Linked DNA regions of Homo sapiens. The protein of the gene in region 1 purifies or fractionates together with the protein of each later gene. This does not show direct contact. Each region holds a gene or a part of one and is shown on either strand. Other genes may lie near its edges.

Region 1 (7,817 bases):
GTATAATTATTCACTTGCTGAAGCTAATTTACCAGCTTGTCTCTTCTACTGGAGTGTAAGCCTCTTGAGGACAAGAATGCAGTTTTATTCATCATTGTTTCCTTGATGTTTAGCACAGTGTTTGGTGTTCAATAGATACTTAATATATACTTGATGAATGAATGAATGCATGAATAAATAAACAAATGTTTCCTAGAGGCAGGCATTTCTTTTGTGGCCAGTACAGTAGAATGGTAAATCCCTGGAGTCAGGCTGTGTTGGTTTGAACCTAAGCACTACTTTTGAAAAGTTGTGTGATTCTGAAAAATTTACGTGATTTCTCTGCATTTCATTTTGCTCATTGGTAAAATGATAATAATTGTACCTTTCTTCAGCAGCTAATTTGGCTATGGAACAAATCACCCCAAAAGCTAATGACTTGAAACAGCAGCCATTGATGTAGCTCAGGGTTCTGTGGATCTGTCATTTGGAGCATGTTGGTTCTCCTGTCTCAGCTGGGCTCATTCATGCATCTGAGTTCAGCTATTGGGCAATCTGGGGAATGTTTTGTCCATGTGATGTGTCATCTTCTACCAGGCTAGCCTGGGCTTCATCACATGGTATCTGGCAGGGCTCTAAGAGGGAGAGTTGAAACACACAAGGCCTCTTGAAGCTTAGACTCAGAATTGGCACAAGGTCGCTTCTGGCACATTCCATTGGTCAAAGCAAGTTACAAGGCCAGCTCACATTCAAGGATTAGGTAAGTCGATTCCACTCTTGATGAGAAGAGCAGCAAAGCCATATTATAATGTAGTGTGTATACCAGGAAGGGTGGAGACATGGAGGTATTTTTGCAATCTGCCATAGTCTTCCATAGGATTAGCAAGAGGATTAAGAAAATAAAACATCTGAAGGATTTGGAACAGTGTCCACCATGCAGTAATAAACTCAATAAGTAGTAGCCATTATTATTCTGTTAGAGGTTGCCAGGAAAAGTTTTATAGTGGAAAGAAATCTGAGTTTACTCTTGAGAGGTAAGTGGAATTTCTATTTGTAGAGAATGAAGGCCTCTCAAAAAGACACAGCCTAACAATAGGTGCTGCAGTTTAACAGTGGAGCGTGTCCAGAACAGGCTGCCCAGAGGAGCTAGAGCTAAATACTGGGAACCCGGAATGTGAGCCACAGAGTTGGGCTTGACAGCAGAGCAATAGCAAACCATTGGCTTTTGCCTAAATGTTAGCCAATAGCACCATTTCTTATTGTTATTTCAGATTTTGTGTTCTTTAATAAGCTTCTCAGTGCTGATGGTTCTGTGATATCTTTGACCCATCTACTCAAGATTTAAAAAAAAAAAAAAAACTAGAAATCTTGAGTTGTGCCTGGGTTTTGCCACTCCCTAACTTTGAAGGAGCTATGTGATCCCTCTTTACTCAATTTTATTCCATGTGTAAAATGGAATAATTTCTTCCCTTATACATCCATTCCACAATGACAGTAATCTTAAAGGTCAGATCACATTGAAATAGTGTTTACTATCCAAAAGACACAGGGGAGACCAGGCTCTGATGTTTATGCAATTTGGTGATAACTCATAAATCCTAAGCAGAAAAGTCAAGAATAAGGAAAATAAAGATTCAGTGTGGCTGCCCCTATATGTTAAGCAGCAAAACATTTCTAGAACTGCTCTAAAGATAATCTTCAGTTCCTCCAGTCCAGTGAGATGATCCTGAGCAACTGGAACCACTGATAGGCCTGGATCTCTGCCACCTTGAAGGCTGACCAGACCACTAGAAACTAATGGCAGCTCTAGTAGACTGCTCAGTGGCCATAGTTTCAGAATCTTTCCATTGTACATGGTTTAAATGCAAATTCACTAATGAATAATTTTGATAATTCTATCGAAGTATGAAGATGGCTTGCATTAGATGACTACACAATCATATTTAATTTTTTTTTAAAAAAGACAATTCTGGCTCCTCTTATGCCACGTGAAATCCATCCTGCTGAGTGCTCCTGACTAGTCACGTCCTTCCTGCCATTTTAAAAACAATAGTGGCAGAGATGCAAGCTGCTGATAGCGCTCAGCAGGACAGATCAAACACACAGATGCAATTTCTGTATGTTGAACACTGAAGTAGGATAAAATTCAAATACTTAAAATCGCTTAGTAGCTAGCATCTGATTGCTGCAAATTGAATCTTTCATAACGAGATTTATTGTAAATAGTGTCGTCTCATTTGTGAGTTCTGCAATAATTTCAGTCAAAGCCAGTATAAGATACTGGAGGTGTGAGATTTACATGACATATATGCTAGTTTATGCACAGATTATGAAGGGACCCTTTATCAATATTCTTTTTTAATTGCTTATACAATAACCAGAATTGTATTTTTTTCTGAAATTTAAACATTATCAGATAACTTTAGAATGCAGAAGAAAATGTTTTTATCCACTTCAACAGCCATTTTAGAATTGCCAGCTCCCAATCCCACTCTCTTCCCTTTCCACCCTAGTTGTTAAATAAGCATTAAAATTATAGGTAGCTAAAATTTTTGAAATGTGGCTTTTATATTGTTTGGAAGCAATAAAGAGCCTGGTAATCATAATTAGTGGTCAATATATCCTATCCATAAAAAAATAGAAATTTGAAACTAAGTTATTTTGAGGCCTACAAACATACTTTAATTCTTTCAAGATAAAACAGGAAGGTGGCCATAATTTAAGTGATCAATACTATTATTGCCTTTGGGCTTAGTTCCAAATACTTCATGAGAAGTTCATAAAAGATCAACATCAAAATCATAATATAAAAATTGCACTTTACATGTATGAGAGTTTTGTGACACTCCACATACTTGATAGCTTTAATTGCTAGTGACACAGAACTCCAAAAATGTTCTATCTTAGAGTCACATGATCTTCCTGTTCAACACCCAAATAAGGGAAATTTAAACAAAAATCAAAACAATAATAGGGCCAGGAGAATTGTATAATCTGTTGTCTTTCTCTCCTCTGCCCTAAACAACAACAACAGCAAAATTCTTTTCTATGATTTAATCATGTATTGGGGCATTTCCACTATAAACATAAATATGAGAATGCAGCATCTCAACAGGATCTGAATAAAGAAGTCTTACTCTCAGATAATCTAGAACCTTGACAAAAAAAGTGGGGGGGCTTTGTGAGGGTTAAATGCTTCAGTTTGATCCTTCTTAATTCATTTAAGTGTGACTATCCCATGTGCACGTTAATGTTATCATTGTAAATGGGGAATCCCTATTTCTGAACCTCAGAATTTTTAATTTTCCTCCCTTTCCTAAGCAGGTGTCTTTCCATCTCTCACAAATCAAAGAGGATGATGGGGGGTCTGAATAGATGTCTTGCAATGGTGCCCTGATACGTATTTTAATAAGTTTACTAATCAGAGCACATATAAATTAGAATGAATCATAGTCATATAGTTAATAGCAAACAAAGCTCAATTTAGTTCATGTCCAGCTTTCTTCGTGTTCATTTTACTCAAGGGCATACCTTCCTTTTTCTGCTTCTTTTTTTTCTTTCTTTCTTGGACACCTCCAACCCCCATTGACAACCGAAATGCAGGGCTATAAACATAAGGGTGCAATACATCATGAGATAAGTCTGGAGAACATGTCCTCTACCAAAATGCACATGAATCTCTGGTACAGCTAAAATTCCAGAAACATGCTGGGGTTCCTTTTGCATGCTAAGCAGGGTCAAAAATGTGAGCACTATGTGGTTGCCCTTATATATCAGATGAGCTCTAAAGTTGAAAGGTTACATTTGTGAAATTGCGGCTGGGTTTCCTAGCACTTGATTCTAGCTCCTGCAAATCAAAGACTCCTAATTGAAATACAAATCCAACAATATGATAATCTTTCAGTAAAAAAAAAAAAAAAAAAAAAACGTGACTTCTGCACCCTTATCTGTTGAAGAGCTGACAGAGAAGTTCAGAGGCAGTTGTTTAACCAGACAAAATGATAGAGAAAATATGTTTTCAAATAAGATCATAAACCTTGAACAGTGCCTTGTGGGAAGCAAATGTAAAGCAAAGGGCTGTCCTCTATTCTGTCTACCAGCTCTACTCCCCCACCCCGGTGTGTATCCTCAGCCACTCACCTTTTAGGCAAGGGCTAGTGTCTTTCAGGACAGACCCAAACCCCAAATACCAAAACAGAATAAAGTAGTGTCTTAGCATACTTTGAGATCAGACTGTTTCTGCATTTCACAGTGCTGGGGGTGGGGGGGAGGTGTGGGGGGAAGGGAAAAGCAGCATACCAATGTAGTGAAATCTGGAAACAACAGCATATATACAGACACAAAAAAAGTTTGCATATTGCACAGAGCACTTGAAGATCATAAATCTATGCATGAGAAAGATGTAGTGGAAATTTTGGGGGGGATTAGAGTTTATTTTTGTCATCTCTGTGAGACAGCTACTCATTCATCCAGATCACAGCTAAGAAAAAAGCTGGTCACAGAAATTAGCAGTTTCAGCTCAGCAGCGAAGTCGCCAGCCTGTGAAGGCAGAGAGAAATTGACTAATTAGCAATGCGCACTAAAACTTGACGGTTCTTTATAGAGAGAGAGAAGAGAGAGGGAGAGAGAGGGAGAGGGAGGGAGGGGGGGCTCGCTTTTTCCCCTTCTTTCTTCCAAAGATGTTTGAAATCGCAGTCATTTACGCTCGACAATTTTTACAATAGCCTTGAGCCATAATTTTGCGAGTCTCTCCAGCATCCATCCCCCTGTATGGTCTCTCTCTACTGGCCAAGCACGACCGTTTCTCTCCCCAACCGTGGATTTCCTATTACTCTCGTTACGACTCACTGAGCCCCAGGCCCAAGGATAATGATGTGTTGTTTCTTGGTAGCATAATTTGTCACACGTACATTTTTTCTTCTTCTTCTCTTGCAGAAAGCTCTGCTCCCTCTCTCTCTCCCTCTCTCTTTCTCTCTTTTCTCCCTCTCCTACATTTTCTTGCTGTTGCTAATTCATGGTGATCAAATGATGTACGACAAAATAAATTGTAAAGAGTGACTGCCTGGAGTTGGGAACCAGAAGGTGTTTTCCCCCTCCCAAGGAGACAGCAAACCTTTAAAAAGGAAGGACAATTGATTTTTGGGGGGAGCTTAAGTGAGCCTTGACTTTGCAGCTGGTTGAGAACAGGTAAGTTTCTGGCCTTGTGTCTGCCTTGTGTGTATTTTGTTCTGTCTTTTGGATTGTTGGAGGGGGAAGGGCCGGGGAGGGAGTCTTTCAGAGGGGTTGGCGGGGGGGTAGTTGTATGGCAAACGCTCATAAAGAAAAAACTCCTATTGCAAGAAATAAGCAGATGAGGAGGAAAGGCAAGGGAGAAGAACAAGAAGGAAGGGGAATAGGAAAAGATGGGGCGGGGGGAGACAACGAAGCGGAGAGAGCTAGAGAGAGGTATGACCGGGTCCTCTTAAAGGGAGAGAGACTCTGTAAGATGTTTCAGGCAAGCCAGAGCTTTGGGGGCGGGCGTGGGGGTGCTGCCGGCGGAGGGAGCGCGAGGGAGGGTAGGGTCCACCTGGAACGGGATGGTAAAGTGAGTCGAAAGGAGCCCAGTCCGGTATAAATAGGAAGCCGGCGATCCAGGACCGGCGCCAGGCAGGGCAGAGTGAGCCGCAGTGGAAGGGGCAGGTCCGCCGGGATCCCTCCGAGCCGGGCGGCGGCGGCGGCTCTCCCCCGGGCGGGCGGGCCGGCGGGCCGGCGGGCCGGCGCGCGGGCGGGATGCAAGCAGAGGGTCCCTTTCTGCTCAGCCCTGGAAGGTGCAATTACAGGTTAAGGACCTGGCGTATCGATTTCGCCTCGCCTCCCCCACCCTGCCCTCCTCTGCCTAGATGCGGGCGGCTCAGACTTTTTACAGAAGTAGTTCCAGGGCCGGGGAAGTGGGGGTGCCCGAGTGGGGGGCCGCTGGGGGCTCTACCGAGGGGGTCAGAAGGGAGCTGCGGCTGCAGGCGACGATGCTGGGTGGGGCGCAGAGACCCCGCACCCCACTGCTCCCCCGCCCCCCCGCTCGTTCGACAGCCCCCACCCCTCCCCCAACACCTGCCTTCTAACTTGAACTTCTCATAGTTACTGGAGTTAAAGCGACTGCGCCTGGTGCCCGGGAGGGGAAACCGTGCACACGAATCCCTCCCGGCCTCCAGGCCTCCCGGCTCCCTCTCCAAACGCGTCCTCGCAGCCCCACTTCCTCCCCCTGAGTCCTCGGTGCCGCCCCTCGCTGGAAGGGGAGATTGATGCCTGAACTTCCGCGCTTTGAAATGAGCGAGACGGGGGAGAGGGGGCCACCGGGTGGGGGTGGCGGTGGTGGAAGGATTCTCCTGCCAGGTTTAAAGCCATCTCTGGAAAATTAGCCAAACTGAGTGGTGACGGGGAAGCCAACAGTTTGCGAAGCGGGGAAGCGGGCAGGGCCAGGTTGAGGGAAATGAGCTCGAATTGATAAGGACAGCTCCCGCCTCTGCCGATTCCACTGAGCGGGTCCTCACCGCGCTCCGCTGCACTTTCCCGGGAGAAGAAAGGGCTTTATCTCCTCCCTCAGACTATTAGCCTAGGAGTTTCTCGGGGCAGCATGGATAATCGAAGGGGGTCCCAGCTTTTGGAGAGCTAAGATTCGCACACCCCGCACGCTGGTCGGGCCCCTGTTCCTACCCCCTCCCCCAAACTGGGCCAACTGCGAAAAGCAAAGCTTCGGGCACAAGTTGACCTGGAACCTTCGCCGTCGGTCGCCTCTGAGCTTTCAGGGCACCCCCGGCTCCCCACTTCCCGGCCTTTCCCTTCATCTGGCCCGGCATGGACACGAGCCCACGAGGTGCCTCGGCCTCAGCCGCCACTTTGCCGTCGCTGCTGCCACTGCTGTTGCTGCCAACAGCCGAGCTGAGGTGGTTGGTTTTAGGAAAGTGAGGGACGAAGTGTGTGGGAGGTGGCGAGAGGAGCCGCAGGGCGCAGAACCGGCGCCGGGACCCCAGACAGGGCCCTTCTGGTGGCGCTCACGGATCCAGCGTCTTCGGACTTTCCTCCTAGGGTCGGGGTCCGGAGCGCGCCAGGAGGGAGTCAAGCTGAGCCTTGATTCTTGTTCTTCGCCCTCCCCTCCCCTCCACACCCTTCCCCACCCCGACCACACCCCACCCGCTCCACCACCCTGCTCCCCTCCCTCCCATCCCCCACCCCTGTCTGCCAGGTTGGAGGAGGGTTTAAAGCCAGGTGCACCGAGTCAGCTCGCCATGTCCAGATCCGGGGACAGGACCTCCACCTTCGACCCCAGCCACAGCGACAACCTGCTGCACGGCCTCAACCTGCTGTGGAGGAAGCAGCTGTTTTGCGACGTGACCCTGACGGCCCAGGGCCAGCAGTTCCATTGCCACAAGGCCGTGCTGGCCTCCTGCTCGCAGTACTTCCGATCGCTCTTCTCCAGCCACCCCCCTCTCGGGGGAGGGGTCGGCGGCCAGGACGGCCTGGGGGCCCCCAAGGACCAGCAGCAGCCGCCGCAGCAGCAGCCGTCACAGCAGCAGCAGCCGCCGCCGCAGGAGGAGCCCGGGACTCCTTCTTCCTCCCCCGACGACAAGCTGCTGACCAGCCCCCGGGCCATCAACAACCTGGTGCTGCAGGGCTGCTCGTCCATCGGGCTGCGCCTGGTGCTCGAGTACCTCTACACGGCCAACGTGACCCTGTCCCTGGACACGGTGGAGGAGGTGCTGTCGGTCAGCAAGATCCTGCACATCCCCCAGGTCACCAAGCTCTGCGTGCAGTTCCTCAACGACCAGATCTCGGTGCAGAACTACAAGCAGGTGTGCAAGATC
Region 2 (7,273 bases), on another chromosome or scaffold:
ATCCCAGCACTTTGGGAGGCTGAGGTGGGTGGATCATTTGAGGTCAGGAGCTTGAGACCAGCCTGGCCAACGTGGTGAAACCCCGTCTCTACTAAAAATACAAAAATTAGCCGGGCATGGTGGCACGCACCTGAAATCCCAGCTACTCAGGAGGCTGAGGCAGGAGAATCACTTGAACCTGGGAGGCAGAGGTCGCAGTGAGCCAGGATCACGCCACTGCACTCCAAACTGGGTGACAGAGCGAGACTCTATCTCAAAAAAAAAAAATAGGCCTAGTGGTGTGGTTTCTGTGGGTGGTGGCTCTATCCAGACTGCCCACCCAGGCTTAGATTCTAACTCCTCCACCACTTAGCCCTGGTTGGCATCCTCACCCTTCAAAATTCAGAAACACTTGGGAAGGAAAATTATGAGCTTTTCACACTTCTAAGTAGTAGTAGTAAATCTGTAACTTACTAAATCTGGCGACTTATTGGGGTCTGGCACAATGACTGTAACTTTACATCTATTGGCCCTATGAAGAAGTGTTCTTCCCCCCTCTTTTAAAATACAAATATTTTTAAAATTTTCAAGCTTACATAAAAGCTTAAAGTACAACCCTTAACCTAGATACGCCAAATCACAATTTGCCAATTGTGCTTTTACACAAACACACACTTTTTTGGCCCAATTATTTAAAAGTAAGTTACAGATATGTTGATTGACGTTTGACCCCTAAATTCTTCAACATGTATCCCCTAATAAGGGCGTTCTACTACATAGCCATAATACATTATATGTAATAAGCAAGAAGTCAGTATTACCCAATGTAATAGTTATTCAAAATTTTCTGCCAGGTGCAATGGGTCATGTCTATAACCCCAGCACTTTGGGAAGCAAAGGCAGACAGATTGCTTGAGCCCAGGAGTTCAAGGCCAGCCTGGGCAACATAGTGAAACCCCATCTCTACAAAAACTACAAAATTTAGCATGGTGTGGTAGCGTGCACCTGTAGTCCCAGCTACTTGGGAAAATCACCTGAGCCTGGGGATGTCAAGGCTGCAGTGAACCATGATCGCGCCACTGCACTCCAGCCTGGGCGACAGAGTGAGACCCTGTCTCAAGAAAAAAAAAATTCTAATTGCCCAAAAATACCTTATATAGTTTCTGGTTTTTAAAATCAGATCCAGTCAAGATGTACATATTGCATCCTATTATATCTCTTTTATCAACTCATTTAATCTAAATAGAGCCCCTTGGCATGGTAGCTCATGTCTGTAATCCCAACATTTTGGGAGGCTGAGGTGGGCAGATCACTTGAGGTCAGGAGTTCGAGACCAGCCTGGCCAACATGGTGATACCCCATCTCAAGTAAAAATACAAAAATTAGCCGGACATGGTGGTGTGTGCCTATACTCCCAGCTACTCAGGAGGCTGAGGCAAGAGAATTGCTTGAACTCAGGAGGTGGAGGTTGCAGTGAGCCGAGATTGTGCCACTGCACTCCAGCCTGGGCAACAGAGTGTGACTCTATCTCAAATAAATAAATAAATAAATAAATAGAGCTTCTCCACCTATTTAAATATGTTTGATTGGTTTATCAATGATTAGATTGGGGTTAGATTTAAGTTTTTGGCAATGTGTGTACTTACTGCATGTCAGGAGGATATGATGTCAGGGTCTTACTATCCATGAATGCTAAATTTGATTATTAAGGTCATGGCAACCTGATCTCTCTATCGTAAAGGTAAATTTTTCTCTCTTACAATTAATAAGTAATCTGTGAAGTGATTCTCTGAGTCTGTTATAATTATGTGTTCCTGATAACCTTTCACACCACATCCTTGGATGATCCTTGCTTGAATTACAACACTGAGGGTTGCAAATTGGTAATTTTCTAATTCTGCCATTCCTTCTGTGTTTATTAGTGTTCTTTTTTATAGAATTAATTTTTCCTGGCCGGGTGCGGTGGCTCACGCCTGTAATCCCAGCACTTTGGGAGGCCGAGGCGGGCGGATCACGAGGTCAGGAGATCGAGACCATCCTGGCTAACAAGGTGAAACCCTGTCTCCACTAAAAATACAAAAAATTAGCCGAGCGAGGTGGCGGGCGCCTGTAGTCTCAGCTACTCGGGAGGCTGAGGCAGGAGAATGGCGTGAACCCTGGGAGGCGGAGGTTGCAGTGAGCCGAAATCACACCACTGCACTCCAGCCTGGGCGACAGTGAGACTCCGTCTCAAAAAAAAAAAAAAAGAATTAATTTTTCCTGTCTCTATCTTTCTCACTCCCTTCTTCTCACCCTCTTTTTTCTTTTGGGAATAACATTATGGACTCTTGTTTTTTGTTTGTTTGTTTTTGAGATGGAGTCTCACTCTGTTGCCCTGGCTGGTGTGCAGTGGCACGATCTTGGCTCACTGCAACCTCCACTTCCCAGATTCAAGCGATTCTCCTGCCTCAGCCTCCCAAGTAGCTGGAATAACAGGCGCACGCCACCCCGCCCAGCTATTTTTTGTATTTTTAGTAGAGATGGGGTTTTGCCATGTTAGCCAGGCTGGTCTTGAACTCCAGACCTCAGGTGATCCGCCCGCCTCGGCCTCCCAAAGTGCTGAGATTACAGGCATGAACTACCGCACCCAGCCTGGACTCTTGTTTTGTTGTTGTTGTTTTTTAATTCACTGGGCTATATGAACTCACCTTGAACTTTTCCTGTGAAAGTCCAGGAATCATCAGTTTCTCCAGGAAGCCCTGGTTTCTTTTAGAAGAGATGATGACATTCAGAAACAAAGATCCAGGGCTAGGTGTGTTTATTGCTACTGGGTGTCATTTCTAGGCTCTGTGAGTGAGCAGAGCTAGGAAATGATGGATAGGTGATTGATAGATAGATGATAGATGGACAATTTTCATTACTCAGTACATTTATTGTTACAACAGCTAGTCCCCACTGACAGGATTGCATGGTAAGTCATTTCATTATGGAAGTAATGCTCATTATGGAAGTGGACAGTAATGTAGGAAAAAAGGAAATTGCACAGAAAAGAGCTCTTGCCTACTCCAGGTCGCCATGAGTATACAGACTGTTGGCTAGGACCTCTGTGGCTGGGTTCAGCTTCCTGCCGAAGACGTCTAAAGGACTGGTTCTCTGAAGGGTGTCCAAACCAGAACTTCCCAGAGGCCATGACTCTGAGGTCAAGAATCCACATGAAGCCCTGGGCAAGGGATTCACGCTCTTTGGGTCTGCTTTAGGTTGTCTTTGAAACAAAGACAATGTAATCGGTCCTGCCTGGGTCCCAGAGTTGTAAGGATCAATATATTTATCAATATGTTTATTTTTAAACATTGCTAGTTGTGTCTCTTCACATTTATTACCAAATTCCTTCTCTTCTCATTGTTTTAAAACCACAGAGGGAAATGTCATTGCTTTATAATCTAGTTTAATACATTGCGCTAAGATGTCTTATTCAAATACTCTTTCAGGTTATCAGTCATCAGTGCTTCCAGATTAAAATTTTAATTATTTAAATCTTTTTTGAAAAATACTATTGGGATTTGGATTAGGATAGCATAACAACTATAATTAATTTTGAGGGGGGGGGGGTGCTTTGGGATAAGGCCTGGCTCTGTCACCCAAACCAGAGTGCAGTGGCACAGTCTTGGCTCACTGCAACCTCCACCTACTGGGACAAAACCAATTATTAAAATAGAAGAAGTTCCTATAGCTATTATCACTTGGGAAATTACACAGTTTTTAGCCCTGGCCAACAGCTGGGGACAAATCTAAAATGTATATTGCTTATTATATCACAGTATCACACAACCCCTCCCCTGAGTGCAAGGCGGTGACTATGCAGACGTGAGACATGCAGTTGCTCTCAGCTCACAAACTAGGCAGTGGTTTCCAAAAAAAATTGTTTTGTCAGCCACAGTATGAAGATACCATGATCCAGTTCATAGACACACAACTGAAACAAAAGTTTCACAACAATATATAATTGGTTACAACCCACTTAACTGTATTGATGTCATGACTTGCCAATAGGTCACAACCTTCATTTTTTTTCCTGTTTATGGAGGTAAAACTTAAGTATGGTAAAATTTACACTTTTTTTTTAATTGAGACAGGGGTCTTACTATGTTTTCCAGGCTGGTCTTGAACTCCTGGGCTCAAGTGACCCTCCTGCCTCGGCCTCTCAAAGTACTGGGATTATAGGCATGAACCACCACAGCTGGCCACAATTCACCCTTTTAGATGTGTATGGTTACATGAATTTTGACAGTCTTTATAAACACATTTGACCACCACCACATCATATTACTTTTGTGCCAACCTAATAGAATATTCCCATCACTCCAAAATATGCCTTGTGTTTCTTTGTAACCAGTCTTTTCCCTCCAACCCAGCCCCAAGAATTCACTTAATCTGATTTCTGTCTTTATAGTTTTGCCTTTGCCAGAACGTTATACAGATAGAGTCATGTACCATGTAACCTTCTGAGGCTGGCTTCTTTCACTTGACGTAATGCTTTTGAAATTCATGTATGTGGTAATGTCTTTTAGTAGTTCCTATATATTGCTGAGTCATATTCTATTGTATGGATGTACTGCAATTTATCTGTTTACAATTAGTTGTTTCTGAGTTTGGGCAATTATGAATAAGCTGCCATAAACATTCACATATGAGTCTTTGCATGGACATATGTCTCCATTTCTCCGGCATAAATACCTAGGAGTAGGGTCATTGGGTCACGTGATAATTGTATGCTGTATTAGTCCATTCTCACACTGCTAATAACAACATACCCCAGACTGGCTAATTTACAAAGGAAAGAGGTTTAATTGACTCACGGTTCCACAGGACTAGGGAGGCCTCAGGAAACTTAAAATAATGGTGGAAGGGGAAGCAAACATGTCTTTCTTCACATGGCAGCAGCAAGGAGAAGTGCCAAGCGAAGGGGGAAACCCCTTATAAAACCATCAGATCTCTTAAGAACTCACTATCACAAGAACAGCATGAGGAAAACCGCCCCAATGATTCAATCATCTCCACCTAGTCCTGCCCTTGACACATGGGGATTATTACAATTCAAGGTGAGATTTGGGTGGGGACACAGAGCCAAACCATACCATATGTCAAACTATTTTCAACAGCGGTTACCATTTGTCAGCAGTGTATGAGGTTTCCATTGTTCTATGTACTCACCTTCAATTGGCATTGTCAGTTTTTATATGAGCCACTAATAGGTATATAGTAGCATATAATTGTGGTTTCAATTTTCATACTCTCATGACTGATGATATTGACCATCTTTTCATGTGATTGTCAGTCATCTGCATATCTTCTTTGCTGGAGTATTTGTTAGATCTTTTGTCTAGTTGTTTTGTTTTTGTTTTTGTTTAAGTAGAGATAGGGTTTCACCATGTCGGCCAGGCTGTTCTTGAACTCCTGGCCTCAAGTGATCTGCCCGCCTCAGCCTCCCAAAGTGCTGGGATTACAGGCATGTGCCACTGCACCCAGCTTTATGTGTTTTTTAATTGGGTTATTTTCTTACTGAGTTTTGAGAGTTCTTTATATATTCTGGTTAACAATCCTTTATCAGATAGGTGTTTTGCAAATATTTTCTCCATCTGTGTCTTATTCTTTCATTTTCTTAACAGTGTCTTTTGAAGAGCAGAAGTTTTTTACGTGGATGAAGTCTAGTTTATTGATGTTTTTAATGGTTTGTCCCTTTTAGGTCCTATCCAAGAAATCTTTGCCTAATCCACAGTTGCAAAGATTTTCTCCTAGAAGTTGTGTAGTTTTAGATTTTATATTTAGGTCTATGATATGTTCTGAGTTTATTTTTCATAAACAGCATAAGAGATGGACCAAGGTTCTTTTTTTCCCCATATGGATGTCCACTGATCTGCATTTTGAGATAGCCAGGGAAGAGGGCCATGTGCAAAGGAGATCGCTGCAGGTGGAATGCTGGGTGCTGCCAGAGGGGGTTGTGCAAGGCACCAGGAAGCCCTGAGAGGAGAGCTGTTAACCTAGTGGAGATCTGGGGACAGTAGTACAGAGGTGATGACTCATAGGCTGGGCCTGAAAGGTAGACAGCAGAGAGGGTAGAGAAGGTAGACAGGGGTGGTCTAGGGACAGCAAAGGCAGGGCAGGTGTCAGCATGAAGGAGACTGACTCAGTGGCGTCTGGCGTGCGTGGAGGGCAGGGTTAGACATGAGAGGGAAAGAGGAAGGTGGTTGGGCAGGGACGGTACTTCAGGAAGGTCAGTCTGCAGACCAGAAAGGAAGGTGGACAGAAGGCAGGGAGCCGAGTGAGGATGTAGGGGTGCAGGGGGCAGGGATGAGGCCTGAGCTCTGGGAGTAGCTATAGGGATGGGTTCAAGGAGATAGTCAAGACAAACTGTAGGGCTGAAGAGTCGGGGCTGCTTCCCTCAGGCAGTTGGGTGGCTCAGAAGAGTTCACAGCAGAGTTAGGGGCAGAGGAAGGCACAGGTGAGGCTTCTGGTACCTGTGTTACTGGTGGAGGGTCTTGACTAGGAATTTTCCAGGTCCTTGGCGTTTTGAACAAAGTAGCAGAGGGGCAGACGTGGTAATCCCCACACTTTGGGAGGCCTGGATGGGCAGATCACTTGAGGTCAGTCCAAGACCGGCCTGGCCAACGTGGTGAAACCCGTCTCTACTAAAAAAAAAAAAAGTAAAAATAAAAAGAGTAGCAGGGGAATGAAATGCAGGAATGAAGCAGTGAAAGCAGGAATTAAAGTGAGAAAGCACTCCTCAGGGTGGGAGTGGGCCGGAGCAAGGAACTCAAAGGCCCAGTTACAAAGTTCTCTGGGCTTTAGGTACCCCATTTGAGGTTCTTATCAGCTACTCCTTATCTGGACGAAGGATTTAGTCTGTGGCTAATTAAAGGCTGAGGTGAATGGGCACCCTATGCAGATAAAGGGATGGTCCCAATCCAAGGCCCCCCTCCCTTTCCACCTGAGACATGGTGGAGTGGGAGGGTTGCAAAGAGGAGCGTTTGATCCTTTGTCACCCAGCTGGGGCGATGGCGTTTTTCCTCTTGGTTCAGCTTTAGGAATTTGGTGTTAATTGGTCTTAGGGTCCCTGCCCCCAGACCCAGGATTTTCCTTCTGATCCAGCTTTGGGAAGTCAACAGAATTGGCCTCAGATTTTTTGCCCCAGACCTTGGTGTTTTCTCTTTTATGAAGTTAGCACAAATTGGCCTTAAGTTCCTTGTCTCCAAACCTTGTTCTCCTGCCTCACTTGCAGAATATCCAAGTGGAGGTGGCCAGGAGGCATCTGGGAACA

The links.
Region 2: the proteins of KLHL14 (region 1) and KCTD21 purify together in Homo sapiens (affinity purification with mass spectrometry; 3 studies listed by BioGRID and IntAct, with this or other methods). This does not show direct contact.

What each region holds. Positions count from the first base shown.
Region 1 is NC_000018.10:32,770,016-32,777,832, reverse strand, and holds the start of KLHL14 (kelch-like protein 14), read left to right. Parts: upstream 1-4,809; 5' UTR 4,810-5,166; intron 5,167-5,545; exon of another isoform or gene 5,546-7,157; intron 7,158-7,198; 5' UTR 7,199-7,241; coding exon 7,242-7,817.
Region 2 is NC_000011.10:78,178,592-78,185,864, reverse strand, and holds part of KCTD21 (BTB/POZ domain-containing protein KCTD21), read left to right. Parts: intron 1-7,273. UniProt on the Homo sapiens protein: Probable substrate-specific adapter of a BCR (BTB-CUL3-RBX1) E3 ubiquitin-protein ligase complex mediating the ubiquitination and subsequent proteasomal degradation of target proteins. Promotes the ubiquitination of HDAC1.